Regions from separate parts of the Homo sapiens genome. Here region 1 is linked to region 2. The links come from fine-mapping of genetic effects on gene expression. A gene starts in region 2. The other region holds a variant in brackets. All regions are shown on one strand. Distances are between the middles of the regions.

Region 1 (8,000 bases), 270 kb after region 2:
TGGGTTGAGGATTGTCATGACCATGAAGTTAGTTTTGTGAAAATTCAACAACAGAAAAAGGGCTTCATGCTTACTTTTGCAAAGCATGATGTGGGAAACACAATGTGAGACTGCTTTTGAGATGTTTTGTGTTAGATTTATCTAAAATTCAAGGCCAGGTGAGGTGGCTCACACTTGTAATCCCAGCACTTTGAGAGGCTGAAGCAGGTGGATCACCTGAGGTCAGAAGTTCGAGACCAGCCTAGTCAACGTGGCGAAATCCTGTCTCCACTAAAAATATAAAAATTAGCTGGGCGTGGCGACGCATACCTGTAATCCCAGCTACTCAGGAGGCTGAGGCAGGAGAATCACTTGAACCCAAGAGGCAGAGGTTTAAGTGAGCCGAGATCGCACCACTACATTCCAGCCTCGGCAACAGATTGACTGTCTCAAAAAAAAAGTAAATAAATAAATAAAACTTTAAAAAATAAAATTATAAAATGAATAGCAGATAATCAGGACGGAAACATGCAACCTATCTACTGGGTATTTCCCTTTACATCAGGGTTTGTCAACCTTGTACTACTGACATTCTGGACCTGTTCATTCATCGTAGTTAGGGCTGTCCTGTGCACTGCAGAATGCTTTAGCAGCATCCCTAGCCTCTACTCATTAAATACCAGTAGCACTACCCCAGTCTGACCATCAGAAATGTCCACTGCTAAATGTTTCCTTGGGGGCAAAATCATCCCCAGTTGAGAATCTGCTTTAAATCTTCTAGTATCTCCAACTGTCTAAAGCCTCATCCACTCATATTCTCTCCTCAAAGTTTCAAAAAATCTTTCCCCCAGTCTTCCTGGTAATCCAAGCTAAATCCCAAAGTCTACCTTAGTATTTCATTTGTCTTTGCCTTCAAAATCCTCAGAAAGCACACTGTACAACTTCAACAAGGACAGGTCAGTTTTCTTGTTTAAAACCACAGTTGGTGCCGGGCATGGTGGCTCACGCCTCTAATCCTAGCACTTTGGGAGGCCGAGGTGGGAGGATCACGAGGTCAGGAGTTTGAGACCACTCTGACCAACATGGTGAAACCCTGTCTCTACTAAAAATACAAAAATTACCTGGGTGTGGTGGCGCAGGGCTGTAAACCCAGCTGGCTGAGGCAGGAGAATCGCTTGAACCTGGGAGGCGGAAGTTATAGTAAGCCGAGATGGCGCCACTGCACGTCAGCCTAGGAGCCAGAGACTCTGTCTCAAAAAAAAAACCACAGTTGGAAGCCGGGTGCGGTGGCTCACGCCTGTAATCCCAGCACTTTGGGAGGCCGAGGTGGGCAGATCACCTGAGGTCAGGAGTTCAAGACCAGACTGGCCAACATGGCAAAACCCCGTCTCTACTAAAAATATAAAAATTGGCCGGGCGTGGTGGTGGGAGCCTGTAATCCAAGCTACTGGAGAGGCTGAGACAGAAGAATCACCTGAACCCAGGAGGCAGAGGTTACAGTGAGCAGAGATTAGGCCACTGCACTCCAGCCTGGGCAACAGAGTGAGATTCTGTCTCAAAACAAAAAATAAAAATAGGCCAGGCACGGTGGCTCACACCTATAATCCCAGCCCTTTGGGAGGCCAAGGCGGGTGGATCACTTGAGGTCAGGAGTTTGAGACCAGCCTGACCAACATGGTAAAACACCATCTCTACAAAAAAAAACACAAAATTAGCGCAGTGTGGTGGCGCACGCCTGTAATCCCAGCTACCTGGGAGGCTGAGGCAGGAGAAGTGCTTGAACCCTGAAGGCGGAGATTGCACTGAGCCAAGATAGCACCATTACACTCCAGCCTGGCCAACAAGAGTGAAACTCCCTCTCAAAAAATAAATAAATAAATACGAATAAAAGCACAATTGGTAAGAGACTTGATACTAAAACTCAAGGCTCAACATCCCCAATTAAGTACTCTTCTCTATCATAACATGCTGCTATCCATCAGTTACAAAGTTTAGTCAGTCCTTCACTGCCAATGTGTCTTGCTTCTATCTCTTCCTTTCCATTTCTACCTATAACCCACAGCAATGGTTCTCAAACTTTTGCGTGGATCAAAATCACCTGTCTTGTTAAAACACAGATTGCTAGGCCCCAACTCCAGAGTTTCTGGTTCAGTAAGTTTGGGGTGGGGCCCAAGAATTTGCATTCTAATATGTTCCCAGACACTCAGTTAATGCTCATGCTGCTAATGAGAGACCTACACTTTGAAAACCACTGCCTTAAGAGTTCAGGGTTCCTGTCACCTCAAAAGGCAAGCTATTTGAATTTCTTTCTAGACCACCCCGACCTGAAACTGGAGACATTACTCCCAAAATGCCACTTTGGCCAAATCACTGTTATATTAAAAACAAACTGGCTGGACGCAGCGGCTCATGCCTATAATCCCAGTACTTTGGGAGGCCGAGGCAGGCGGATCATTTGAGGTCAGGAGTTCCAGACCAGCCTGGCCAATAATAGTTGAGACCCCGTCTCTACTAAAAATACAAAAAATTAGCCGGGCGTGGTGGCACGTGCCTGTAATCCCAGCTACTTGGGAGGCTGAGGCAGGAGAATCGCTTGAACCCAGGAAGCGTAGGTTACAGTGAGCCGAGATCGTGCCATTGCACTCTAGCCTGGACATCGCAGTGAGACTCCATATCCAAAAAACAAAAAAAACAAAACTTCTAATGGCTATGTCCATACTTGGCTTTCAAAGTTGTTTAAAATTTCTACCCAACGTTATCAGCAGTGCCCCTCAAAAGACACCACCTACTTCAGTCTGCTCATCTATCAGAGATCCACAGAATAGGCCTTATAGTAGTAGTATAAAGCTTATGCTGTCTTTACCACCTGAAAGGCCACCCTCTTCCCTCCTCCTCTCTACCTACCTGAAGGAGGCCTTCACCAATGTATTTGCCAAAAACATTCGTTTGGTCACTATTTGCTGCCTTTTATCTTTAGGGTTTAACTTTTTACCAAGTACTCACAGACAGAGAAAAACCCCAAGAACCTAAAATTTAAAACAGAAAACAAGGATATGAGTGACATACATAAATAAAAGCCTTGACATACACACAAACTGCACAATACTGCCGTTTTAACAGATCAAGTGCAATAAGTTCAAAGTTCATGAAAAGAAAGAATGTGCCATCTTTGTTTGAAACATAATCAAACACTGGCTATCAAATATTTATAGCTATCTAATTCAGGATGTTAAGCAGACAGACGTTAGCAAGAAAATGTTAAAGTAGGCGGAAAGTCGTGGCTCATGCCTGTAATCTCAGCATTCTGGGAGGCCAAGGCAAGTGGATCACCCGAGGTCAGGAGTTCCAGACCAGCCTGGCCAATATGGTAAAACCCCATCTCTACTAAAAATACAAAAATTAGCCAGGCGTGGTGGCACACGCCTGTAATCCCAGCTACTAAGGAGGCTGAGGCAGGAGAATTGCCTGAACCTGGGAGGCAGAGGTTTCAGTGAGCCAATATCGCACCACTACACTCCAACCTGGGCGACAAGAGCGAAATTCCATCTCAAAAAAAAAAAAAAAAGAAAAGAAAACACTAAAGTAGCCTCAAAAGAGAGAAAGTACTCAGCCTACACACCGTGGAGTAAGAGTGTTATTATTATTATTTTTTTGAGACGGAGTTTCGCTCTTGTCACCCAGGCTGGAGTGCGACGGTGAGATCTCAGCTCACAGCAACCTCCACCTCCCAGGTTCAGGCGATTCTCCCACCTCAGCCTCCCGAGTAGCTGGGACTACAGGCGTGCACCACCATGCCCAGCTAATTTTGTATTTTTAGTAGAGATGGGGTTTCGTCATGTTGGCCAGGCTGGTCTTGAACTCCTGACCTCAGGCAATCTGCCCGCCTCGGCCTTGCAAAGTAGTTGGGATTACAGGCGTGAGCCACTGCACCCGGCCTGTTTTCTGTATAAAGTACA[C/T]AAGAGACGTTGGATGGTATGAGAGAAGAAACCTGGGAGTTTGGAGTCAGGGTACCTGAGTTCAAGGTCTGGTTTCACCTCTTACCGACTCTGTGATCTTGGGCAAGTCATGGCCCCTCCCTGGGCCTCTCTCTCCATAATTAAAAAAAAAAAAAAAATCAAGGTTTAAAACGATACCATCTACCTTCCAGGGTTGTTTTGAGAATTAAATAAGGTAATATATATGAAAGAACCTAGCCTACTATCTGGCATATAATAAATGTTTACTGAATTTTAACCCTTTTTGATGTGAAAGTGCAATGCAAAAATAAAGTATTATTCCAAAAGTGAGATAAACAGAGAAAATTAATGAAACCTAATTAAGAGTGTCCGTTACCCCCCCAAAATAGAAAGATACAAAGAATGTATGTCTATCTACATGATATACATAATGTATCAATTCCTTGACTTAATAACCAAAACCAAGACCCGAGAATAACACAAACATCATCACTTGCAACTTCACAGCTTTAAGGCTGTCTAAAGGTCAGCAAAACCTAGGCACAGTTTAGGACAGGATTAGAACAGGAGAGCTTAAGGCCGGGCATGGTGGCTCACGCCTGTAATCCCAACACTTTGGGAGGCCGAAGTGGGCGGATCACTGGAGGTGAGGAGTTTGAGACCAGCCTGACCAACATGGTGAAACCCTGTCTCTACTAAAACAATATAAAAATTAGCCAGGTGGTAAAGAGCAGTCAGGTGCACCTGTGAGGAAGTCAGGTGCCGTGACTCAGACTCGAGTAAACACGAAGTATGAGTTCAACCCAGAAAACTGCTCTCTCTTGGGTTTTGCAAACTTGTCAGAAATAAATCACTAACTTTAGAAAGCTTTGGTGCAAGAAAAAAAAAAAAATTAGCCAGGTGGGGTGGCGGACGCCTGTAATCCCAGCTACTAGGGAGGCTGAGGCTGAAGAATCACTTGAACCCGGGAGGCGGAGGTTGCAGTGAGCAGAGATCGCACCATTGCACTCCAGCCTGAGTGACCACAGTGAAACTGTCTCACAAAAGAAAAAAAAAAAAAGAATAGGAGAGCTTAAAATTCAGACTAAACTTTAATTTTTTTAATTTTTTTTTTTGAGACAGAGTCTCTGTCGCCCAGGCTGGAGTGCAGTGGCACGATCTCGGCGTACAGCAACCTCTGCCTCCCGAGTTGAAGCGATTCTCCTGTCTCAGCCTCCTGGGTAGCTGGGATTACAGGCATGTGCCACTATGCCCGGCTATTTTTCTTTTTCTTTTTTTTTTTTTTTTTGAGATGGAGTCTCGCTCTGTCACCCAGACTGGAGTGCAGTGGCGTGATCTGGGCTCACTGCAAGCTCCGCCTCCCGGGTTCACACCATTCTCCTGCCTCAGCCTCCTAAGTAGCTGGGACTACAGGCGCCCACCATCACGCCCGGCTAATTTTTTGTATTTTTAGTAGAGACGGGGTTTCACCGTGTTAGCCAGGATGGTCTCGATCTCCTGACCTTGTGATCCGCCCGCCTCGGCCTTCCAAAGTGCTGGGATTACAGGTGTGAGCCACCGCGCCCGGCCTATGCCCGGCTAATTTTTGTATTTTTAGTAGAGACGGGGTTTCACCATGTTGGTCAGGCTGGTCTTCAACTCCTGACGTCAAGCATTCCACTGGCCTTGGTCTCCCAAAGTGCTGGGATTACAGGCCTAAGTCACTGTACCTAGACAGACTAAACTTTTAAAATCAACTAGACACTTTATTATTTGTTCTAAATGGTCCAAATACCAAACATCATCAATGTGGTAGTCTGACATGTGTGCTACACATACGTTTTTATTTGTTATAGTTTAGGTCTCTGTTTCTTATCTACACTGCAAGACCCAATATCCAGATATCCTCCTCATCCCTACCTGCCAAAGTGTCCTCCATTCTAATTTATTCATTTTTTTAGAGACAGGGTCTTGCTCTGTAGCCCAAGCTGGAGTGCACTGGCACAGTCATAGCTCATCACAGCCTTAAGCCCCTGGGCTCAAATGATACTTCTGCCTCAACCTCCTGGGTAGCTGGGACCACAGGTGAGAGCCACTGCATCCAGACCCTCCTCCACTCTAGTGGCTTAATCCTAGCATTCAAGAAAATTGGTAGCAAAGAAGAGCATATATCCAGGCTTTCAACAATATCAACAAATACTTATTCAGCACTTGCTATGTGTTAGGCCCTATTTGAAGCATCTAGCACACAGCATAAACAAAAACAAAGCCCCAACTCTCAAGAAGCTTATACTCTAGTGGAAAGCTATACACAAAGTACAGTAGTGATTAATGCTCAGCAAAATAAAACAACAGAAAATAATAGGGCTTAAATTTAATCCTCATTCTAGGGGCCCAAAATATAGCTTACTGTGGAAGACTGATGTATAAGAATAAAAAATTAGTTGTCATTATCTGCATTTTTGAATCACCCAAAAATGGTCAAGTTTTTCCTACATTATTAGGAGGGAGGCCGCAACAATGAGACCAGTGCACTCTCTACCAACACAGACTAAAGACTAAATCTCATAAAATAATTAGAAATAAACTAATTCAACAATGTAGACCACATATAATTTTTTCTAGCTAACATTATACTTTCATACTAGAAAAAAAAAAGGCTTAAAATAAATATTCTATTTTATCTAGTCCATTCTCAGTCAGAAAGACCTCAGAGTGGGAACGGGTCCAGGCGCAGTGGCTCACACTTATAATCCCAGGAGCTGGGGAGGCTGGAGAGGCCTCCAGGCAGGAGAGAGGATCACTTAAGCCCAGGAGTTCGAGACCAGCCTGGACAACACAGTGAAAACCTGTCTCTAGAAAGAATTTAAAAATAAGCCAGGTGTGGTGGCATGTATCTGTGGTACCAGCCACTCAGGAGGCTGAGGTAAGAGGATCACTTGGGGAGGCTGATGCTGCAGTGGTAGTGCCATTGCACTCCGGCCTGGGCAACAGAGCAAGACCCCGCCTAAAAAAAAAAAAAAAAAAAAAAAAGGCCGGGTGTGCTGGCTCACAACTGTAATCCCAGCACTTTGGGAAGCCGAGGCAGGCAGATCGCCTGCCTGAGGTCGGGAGTTTGAAACCAGCCTGGCTAACATGGTGAAACCCCGTCTCTACCAAAAATACAAAATTAGCCGGGCATGGTGGTGCATGCCTGTAATCCCAGCTACTCAGAGGCTGAAGCAGGAGAATCGCTTGAACCCAGGAGAGGGAGGTTGCGGTGAGCCCAGATTGCGTCATAGCACTCCAGCCTCGGCAACAAGAGCAAAACTCCATCTCAAAATAAATAAATAAATAAATTAATTAATTTAAAAAAGATAATCTGGTAATCGCTGCTGAATTTGGGGAGGCACTTTCAAAGGTAAACCAAGGAAAGGTGGGACTATTGCCAGAGTTTCAGTGGCCGCAGTTCCTTGTAACAGATAAATGATTTAGCTATTTCATAATTATATGTAAGACAGGTTAACAGGATTGAACATGCGATAATAACATCTTTTAGAAAAGCTCTCAATTTCTTATTTTTTATTTTTTTTTGCTAGGTGAAAGTGCTAAAAACTCTCAATTTCATCAAGATTGACAAGCACACCAGGCATAGTGGCTCACACCTGTACTCCCAGCACTTTGGGAAGCCAAGGTGGATCGCTTGAGTCTGGGAGTTCAAGACCAGACTGAGCAAAAAAAACCAGACCAGCCTGAGCAGCCCGAACAGGGATAGCCTGCCTTTACAGAAAAAATTAAAAATTAGCCAGGCATGGTGGCACATGCATGCCTGTAGTCCCAGCTACATGCTGAGATGGGAGGACCACTTGAGCCAGGCGGTTGAGGCTACAAAGAGGAATGATCACACCACTGCACTCTAGCCTGGGCAACGGAGTGAGACCCTGTCTCCAAAAAGAAAAAGAAATACAGAAATAAATCATTGTTACCTCAGAACAACCCACCCCAGCATCAAAAGGAAGCTTCTATCCCTCCCACTTGAGTACCTTCTCAGGTATACAAACTTGCATCAGAGTTCTGGCTTTGTTCTGGCAATCAATATACAAAAGT
Region 2 (8,516 bases):
AAAGTTCAAGTCCTGGGTTTCTGGGTCTTTGGGGTTGGGGTCGCAGTCCCCAAGTTCAGAATCAGGAGTCGTGGGGTCAAGGTGATAACATCCAGATTCCTAGATGACTGGGGTCAAGGCTGGGGTCAAGGGTCCCAGGTTCCTGGAGTCAAGGTCATTAGGCTTGAAGGTCACTGAGGCTGGCAGTCATGAGGACCTGGGTCACTAGGACAGGGTCCAGGAATCAAGGATTGCAGGTTTCTGAGGCCACAGTTCCTGGGGATGGGGTTCCCTGGGCCTAGGTCACTAGGGTTCCCAGAGCAGGGTCAAGGTCACTCACCTCTGGGGGCAGGTGCATGAGCAGCACAGCAGCCACGGGCCCCTGGGCCTGGCAGTAGCCCTGCTCCGGTCGATACAGGGTGTAGGCCTTGAGCACCTGCAGGAGCCCCTGCTGCCTGTGCCGGAAGACCCCATAAGGGGCCAGTCCTGCAGGCACCCCCTTCTCCACCCTCTGGGGGCCTCTGCCCAGGCCTCAGCCTCCCTGGGCCTTCCTGGGTCCCCTGAGATGCAAGACTGTAGAGCTGGGCTAGGGAAAGTGGGCTGGAGCACCTGGGGCTTGTGGGGCTGGGGGTCCCTGGGCATCACCGGCCTCGTACCCGTGGCCCTGAGGCGACACAAACATCTCGTGCAGAGGGAATTGACGGTGCAGGTCCCTGCCAATGGTCTCCATCCACTGTGGGTCTCCAGGGGCCTCTGCCAGCTCCTGTGGGTAGCCAGGAAGGTGGGTGTGAGGGTTCAGTGTGGTGAGGGGCTCTGGGTAGGGGAATTGGGGCCCCTGCCCACTCCCTCACCTGATAGGTGCCAGGGCTGTTCTTCTGGCACACATGGGCCCCACACAACAGGGGCCAGCATCGGGCGCGCAGGGCAGACGGGATGCCTTTCCGGCACTGCATCTTTACCTGTGGGTGAGGCCAAGGGCTCCACTAGGCAGCCTCCATAGCTCCTGCTGGCAGGCCCCAGGCACAGCTCATCAGCAGGCAGGGGCCCACTTTGGGTGGCAGGGAGCAAAGGCCGGAGGTGCTGGGACACAGGGTGGGTACATTTTGCCAAGATGTGGGCTGAGGCAGAGAGGAATGAGCCATGGAAGCCAAGTGGGGCCCCTGCCCCCCTCACCTTCTTGTACCGCCGGGACATGGTTTTCTCCCAGTGCGAGGTCATCTCCACCCACTTCATCTCCCGTTGGCGGATGAGGTCTGCAGGTGGGTGGCCCGGCCTGGGGGTGCATGGCACAGGTATCCAGACGCTGGGCAGCTGTTACCCAAGGCCCACACTGCCACCCTCCAGGCTACCCAGGTGAACCCAGCTCCTGGCCCTAGGGATCTCTGGGAGCCCTGTGGGGTGACCTGTGACCCAGGAGCTGCCAATGCTTGTCACGGGGACAGGAAAGGATGTGGCTCCGACGTGGGCAGAAGCAGGAGACTGAAGGGGTGAGTGGGTGTGTATTGGGGGAGGGACTGGTTGGCTGTCACCCAGGACAGGGACACAGACAATTCATAGGGGAAGCTGGCTGGAGAGAGCCCTGGACTGGAAGCCCAGAGTCCTGAGTTTGAGTCTGGGTCTGTGTCTGATCTGTGTGACCTGGGGCAAGTTTCTGTCTATATCTGGACTTGTGTTTCTGTCTGTAGCTTGGGGAAAGGGGGAAGGAGGAGGTATGGGTTCTGTGATTTGGATCTGGGATTCCTGAGCCAGAGGTTCAAAGGGGAAGGATGTTCTGCCCCAGTAGTGGGTGCAAACCCTCGGAGGCTGGGGGTAAGAGACGTACAGAGGCCTCCCCGGACCCTTCCCACCTTAGGGTTCCACCTGGCACCTGCAGAGGGGTGCTACTGGCTGAGTCCCCCTCCCAATCCCTACCACCAGACCCTCCCGGCCTCCCTCCAGAATTCAGCCCTCAGCCCCCTGTCCTCTGTCCCAGCATTCCGCCAGCCCTCACCCTGCCCCCTTACCCTGGCTCTGCTGAGCTGCCCCCAATGAATCCATAGCGGTCGGCCTGGCGATATGGGCCAGGCCCGCTGAGCTCTGAGTCGGACCCCAAGGAGCTGGAGTCATCCTGCAGCTCGGGAGGCTGCACCAGGTCCTCCCCCAGGGCCTGGGCCATGGTGCCCGGGGCCTTCGATGCCACAGGCAGAGAAAGTGGGGAGAACCAGTGTGAGGGGCCACTCCCGGCCAGCCTGGGGCCTGGCTGCGGGGTCAGAGGGGGGAGGTTTCAGGGTATCTCACCAAGCCCCCTATGTCTCCTCTTTTATGGGGGCAGGGGCTAGGCCCTGCCCTGACAGAAAAGCCAGGCCTCTGTCCGGAGACCCAGCCCCAAGCCCTGCCCCTGTCCCCACCAGCCCAGCTCACCTCCCGCAGCACCTCACCTCCTCCTCTCACTTCCTCCTCCTCCTCACACAGCTTTGGCAACCGCTGGGGGCCCCTCCCAAGGGTGGGGGGTGTCACCCCTTCCTCTCTGAGGCTCTTCCTGCCTGCCCCAGTGCCCCTGAGCTGTGGGCTCCTCCCACCTTCCCCATGGCCCCAGTGACTGCAGGCTTGAGTTCCTGTGCTGGTGTGGAGGGCCCAGGACTGTTAGACGCAGGGGCCGGGCCACCTCCAGTTCTTTTGTTTGTTTCTTTTGAGACAGAGTCTCGCTCTGTTGCCCAGGCTGGAGTGCAGTGGCGCGGTCTCAGCTCACTGCAACCTCCACCTCCCGGATTCAAGTGATTCTCCTGCCTCAGCCCCCCAAGTAGCAGGGACTACAGACAAGCACCACCATGCCCGGCTAATTTTTGTATTTTTAGTAGAGACAGGGTTTTTGCCACATTGGTCAAACTCTTGACCTCAGGTGATCCATCCACCTCAGCCTCCCAAAGTGCTGGGATTGCAGGCATGAGCCACTGCGCCTGGACTTCATGTTTGTTTCTTGAGACAGGGTCTTGCTCTGTCACCCAGGCTGGAGTGTAATGGCACGATCTGGGCTCACTGCAACCTCCACCTCCTGGTCTCAAGAGATCCTCCTGCGTCAGCCTCCACAGTAGCTGGGACTGCAGGCGCGCACCACCATGCCCAGCTAATTTTTGTATTTTTTGTTGAGACAGGGTTTCGCTGTGTTGCCCAGGCTGGACGCAAGAGACCATCCCGCCTTAGCCTCCCAAAGTGCTGGAATTACAGGCCTGAGCCACCACGGCAGGCCCACTTCCAGTTCTGAGGTTACTGGCATGTAAAGCACCAACTCAGGGTTCCAACAAGAATTAAGGTTCATTTATCGTCTGCTCTTCTTTTTTTTTTTTTTTTTTTTGAGACAGTCTCGCACTGTCGCCTGGGCTCCACTTCCCAGGTTCAAGCGATTCTCCTGCCTCAGCCTCCCAAGTAGCTGGGATTACAGGAGGCTCCCATCATGCCCAGCTAACTTTTTGTATTTTTAGAGAGATGGGGTTTCACCATGTTGGCCAGGCTGGTCTCGAACTCCTGACCTCAAATGATCCGCCCGCCTAGGCCTCCCAAAGTCCTGGGATTACAGGCGTGAGCCACTGTGCCCAGCCACGTCTGCTCATAAAGTAATTATTTTTATGTGCACACCCTGCAATATTACTGTGCTACTCAAAAGCTAATTATGGGGCCAGGCTTGTTGGCTCACGCCTGTAATCCTAGCACTTTGGGAGGTCAAGGGGGGTGGATCACTTGAGGTTAGGAGTTCAAGGCCACCTGGCCAACATGGCGAAACCCCACCTCTGCTAAAAATACAAAAATTAGCTGGGCACAGTGGCGCACGCCTGTAATCCCAGCTACTCCAGAGGCTGAGGCAGGAGAATCGCTTGAACCCGGGAAGTGAATGTTGCAGTGAGCCAAAGTCGCGCCACTGCACTCCAGCCTGGGGGACAGAGCAAAACTCTGTCTCAAAAAAAAAAAGCGAATTATGGGACTTATAAGAAAATATTAATTTAGCATGCCCCAAGGACCAAAGTGCGCTGGGAATTCAGCCGTAGCTGTCTTTGAGTGTGGTCAGCCGCCTGGGCGCCACAGAGACCCACGAAGAAGTGGGGGGTCCTCCGTGAATGCGAGGTCCAGGCTGTTTTTATCTCTTGAGCCTCAGTTTCCTTTCCTGCACTTGGAGCAGTTAACCCTCAGTGCCTAGCAGCCGGTTATTAACATGTTCACAACACCTTCCACCCAGGGAAGGGGTGGGAAAGTCTGTTGGGCTTTTGAAAGAGAAAAACAACTTCCACAGTCCTTCCGGCCCCACATCCTCTGAACAGGGCTGGGCGCCTCCTCTGGGGCGTAACCAGCTTGGTCACGCCCCCGACAGACCCCGCCCCCAGCCCGCCGCCGAGGCCCCGCCCCCCGGGCCGCCGCGCCTCACGTCCAGCGGGGGCGCTAGAGGGCGGGGGACTGGGCGGGGCGGGCCCGGGAGGCCTGGAGGCGGGGCCGCGGGCCGGGGGCGGACTGGGGCGGGCGGAAGGAGAGCCAGGCCGGAAGGAGGCTGCCGGAGGGCGGGAGGCAGGAGCGGGCCAGGAGCTGCTGGGCTGGAGCGGCGGCGCCGCCATGTCCGACAGCGAGAAGCTCAACCTGGACTCGATCATCGGGCGCCTGCTGGAAGGTTGGTCGGGGCGGGGGAGGCCCGCGTCCGCCGCGCCCTGGCCCCCTGCCCGGCCCGGAAGTGGCGCGCGGGCGGGCCCCCGGGGCCAGCTTAGACTGGGCGGGGACGGGCAGCGAGGTTCCGTGGCCGCAGCTGCCCCCCCGCGGACGCGCCTGAGAGGTCCGGGGCCAGCTCCGACGCGCGGAGCAGCTCCCCCCCTCTCCCGGGCTGGGGGCGCACGGGTTGCCTGGGCTCTTGGGGCGAGGGAGAAACCCGGGAAGCCCGGTCCAGGAAGGGGTCCTGCGCTGTGAGGTTTTTGGTGGCAGCCCCCTGCGCACGACAGTCGCCTCCCGAGGCGCTGAGGGTAGCTGGGGGCTTCCCCTGGGAGGCTTGAGGCCGCGGTCCCGGGAGGCTCAGCAGCAACAGCTGCCTGTGGGCAAGGAGGGGCCGAGGAGGCCTAGGCGCCCCCGGAGGTATCCATGGGGCCACCCGTGTCGCCCACCCTCCTCCTGTCAGGGTCCAGGGTCCTGACACCCCATTGCGCCCCAGTGCAGGGCTCGCGGCCTGGCAAGAATGTACAGCTGACAGAGAACGAGATCCGCGGTCTGTGCCTGAAATCCCGGGAGATTTTTCTGAGCCAGCCCATTCTTCTGGAGCTGGAGGCACCCCTCAAGATCTGCGGTGAGCCCCCGGCCCAGGTCCCCTTGCCTTCCTAAAAGTGGCACTGGACCCCACAGAGTTCCTGGAGCCCTCCTCCCTTGAGCGCAGTCCTGGCCCTGGGTTCAGGTCTAGACCTTGCATCTAGCTTACCCGGTTCCCTGGGTCACAGGTGACATACACGGCCAGTACTACGACCTTCTGCGACTATTTGAGTATGGCGGTTTCCCTCCCGAGAGCAACTACCTCTTTCTGGGGGACTATGTGGACAGGGGCAAGCAGTCCTTGGAGACCATCTGCCTGCTGCTGGCCTATAAGATCAAGTACCCCGAGAACTTCTTCCTGCTCCGTGGGAACCACGAGTGTGCCAGCATCAACCGCATCTATGGTTTCTACGATGAGTGTGAGTGGTCTGAGCGTCTGGGGCTGCCCGGGTCCTGAACCGCACTCTTTGCCATTCAGTGGGACCTTCACATTGGCCTGATATCTGACAGACACTTGATAGACTGTGCGCTCCACGAAGGCGGGGCCCAGGTCCGTTCTCGTGCCTGCCCTGCCCCTCCTGGCATGGGGTCTGGGGAATGGTTGCTGACTGAAGGGCTGCCCGGATTCTAGTGCTTTCCCCCAGGGCCCTGCCTGGTGACACTCCCCCTACATTTGCTACTAAGCACTTAGGATGTTTGCAGATGGGCTCTGCTGTCCAGAAGCTGAGATAAACCAGACCTGGACTTGGCCCGGCTCATGGGTGGGGGCATGCGAGGAGTGCCAACCCTGAGGCTGGTCCAGATTGGAACTTAGTTTCCAGTGGACTCGGGTGCTTTAGAATTACTTCTGGCAGGAGGCCGAGGCGGGAAGATCCCTTGGACCCAGAAGCTCCAAGTTACAGTGAGCTATGATCTTGCCACTGCACTCCAGCCTGGGTGACAGAGCAAGACCCTGTTTCTTTACTTTTTTGAGACGGAGTTTCACTCTTGTTGCCCAGGCTAGAGTGCAATGGTGTGATCTCGGCTCACCACAACCTCCGTCTCCTGGGTTCAAGCGATTCTCCTGCCTCAGCCTCCCAAGTAGCTGGGATTACAGGCATGCGCCACCACGCCTGGCTGATTTTTTTGTATTTTAGTAGAGACGAGGTTTCTCCATGTTGGTCAGGCTGGTCTCGAACTTCTGACCTCAGGTGATCCGCCCGCCTCGGCCTCCCAAAGTGCTGGGATTACAGGTCTTAGCCACTGCGCCTGGCCAGATCCTGTCTTCTTTAATTAAAATAAAAAGTAACTAGAATTGCTCCTGGAAGGCTGACAGGTGGCAGGGGTGGGGGGTGGTTTGCATCGGTGCCTGACTCTCTCCTCCCAGCCACGGCTGAATAGCCCAGGGACCCTGGCTGAGGGTGGGGTAGGCAGGCACCTCACAGCCACCTCCCCCTGGGCAGGCAAGAGACGCTACAACATCAAACTGTGGAAAACCTTCACTGACTGCTTCAACTGCCTGCCCATCGCGGCCATAGTGGACGAAAAGATCTTCTGCTGCCACGGAGGTGAGGGAGGGGATGGCTGGGGAGGAGGAGCACTGGCCGCATCCCTCAGCACCCGGCAGCTCTCCTTAGGTCTCATCTGGGAAGTCACTCCTTCCAGGAAGTGTCCCCCATACCCCACTGTGCTGGGCTGCACTCACTTCCTTGATGTGTGTCCTACATGGAGTGGGCTTGTCTCCTTTCTCCCGGGAGCTCTGTGCTCCTGAGGGCAGGGATGCCTTTGTGCCTGTTTGGGAACTTGAAAAAGCTGAGGGGAAGGGGATGACTTCTGCCTGTCTAGGCGCCCAGGAGACCAGTGGCGGGACCAGGAGGGTGGTGGGAAAGGTGGGGTTCATTGGCCAAGGCTTCCTGGAGGGAGGATGTCCTTGTTTGAGGAAGTGACCTTCCCCCGGCCCCCCAGGCCTGTCCCCGGACCTGCAGTCTATGGAGCAGATTCGGCGGATCATGCGGCCCACAGATGTGCCTGACCAGGGCCTGCTGTGTGACCTGCTGTGGTCTGACCCTGACAAGGACGTGCAGGGCTGGGGCGAGAACGACCGTGGCGTCTCTTTTACCTTTGGAGCCGAGGTGGTGGCCAAGTTCCTCCACAAGCACGACTTGGACCTCATCTGCCGAGCACACCAGGTGGGCTGGTGGCTCCGGCCTGCGGCAGGGGAAGGGGAGGGCCGTGCCTGCGCTCGGGACTGACTGCTCCCATCCTCGCCCAGGTGGTAGAAGACGGCTACGAGTTCTTTGCCAAGCGGCAGCTGGTGACACTTTTCTCAGCTCCCAACTACTGTGGCGAGTTTGACAATGCTGGCGCCATGATGAGTGTGGACGAGACCCTCATGTGCTCTTTCCAGGTGAGTGTGGGGAAGAAAGGAGCCGCTAGGCCCTGTGGCTCAGCCCCATGAGCCTGACCAACACTGTCTCTTTTAGATCCTCAAGCCCGCCGACAAGAACAAGGGGAAGTACGGGCAGTTCAGTGGCCTGAACCCTGGAGGCCGACCCATCACCCCACCCCGCAATTCCGCCAAAGCCAAGAAATAGCCCCCGCACACCACCCTGTGCCCCAGATGATGGATTGATTGTACAGAAATCATGCTGCCATGCTGGGGGGGGGTCACCCCGACCCCTCAGGCCCACCTGTCACGGGGAACATGGAGCCTTGGTGTATTTTTCTTTTCTTTTTTTAATGAATCAATAGCAGCGTCCAGTCCCCCAGGGCTGCTTCCTGCCTGCACCTGCGGTGACTGTGAGCAGGATCCTGGGGCCGAGGCTGCAGCTCAGGGCAACGGCAGGCCAGGTCGTGGGTCTCCAGCCGTGCTTGGCCTCAGGGCTGGCAGCCGGATCCTGGGGCAACCCATCTGGTCTCTTGAATAAAGGTCAAAGCTGGATTCTCGCCATGGCCTCCGTCTCACATCTAAGACACTGCCTGGCAGCTCTTCTGCACAGAGCCGCTTGGGAGTCTCGGCACCGGGCCCCAGCCAGGGCAACCCTAGCCACACACTCGGGTCCAAGGCTCTTAGAATTCCAAGTCAGCGCCAAAGAGTATCAGGAAAGCAAGGAAAACTTGTCAGCTCCACGGGGGTCCCAGATGCATGCCCAGGACTTCAGGAAGGAACAGGTCATGATTGGCAGAGAAGCTGGATCACCAGGGGCCAGCAGCACCTACTATGACATTTTCCTTAGGAAGGTGAGCCTGAGGGAGACAGGTTTCCAGCCTTGGCCAGCTGGAGTATAGCCTGAGGCTCAATGAGAAAT

The links. PIP is the estimated chance that this variant, and not a neighbour inherited with it, causes the effect.
Region 1: its variant is fine-mapped to the expression of PPP1CA in whole blood (TOPMed, PIP above 0.99).

What each region holds. Positions count from the first base shown.
Region 1 is chr11:67,126,957-67,134,956 of GRCh38, reverse strand. All of the region lies in intron 2 of KDM2A (lysine demethylase 2A), which reads right to left. It overlaps LOC124902695 (a long non-coding RNA gene), which reads right to left and starts at 346. Exons shown (of 2, transcript XR_007062740.1): 1 at 310-346. The variant C/T (reference allele first, on the strand shown) is at 3,936.
Region 2 is chr11:67,397,821-67,406,336 of GRCh38, reverse strand. It overlaps PPP1CA (protein phosphatase 1 catalytic subunit alpha), which reads left to right and starts at 4,479. Exons shown (of 7, transcript NM_002708.4): 1 at 4,479-4,609; 2 at 5,138-5,269; 3 at 5,418-5,648; 4 at 6,672-6,776; 5 at 7,174-7,397; 6 at 7,481-7,615; 7 at 7,692-8,154. The coding sequence starts at 4,555. The coding sequence ends at 7,802. It overlaps RAD9A (RAD9 checkpoint clamp component A), which reads right to left. Exons shown (of 11, transcript NM_004584.3): 11 at 7,927-8,516. TBC1D10C (TBC1 domain family member 10C) reads right to left here and starts at 2,254. Exons shown (of 9, transcript NM_001369496.1): 1 at 1,983-2,254; 2 at 1,153-1,252; 3 at 831-938; 4 at 636-742; 5 at 320-434. The coding sequence starts at 2,134. RefSeq lists enhancers at 1,107-1,276, 7,668-8,248, 8,249-8,516 and a silencer at 4,218-4,997.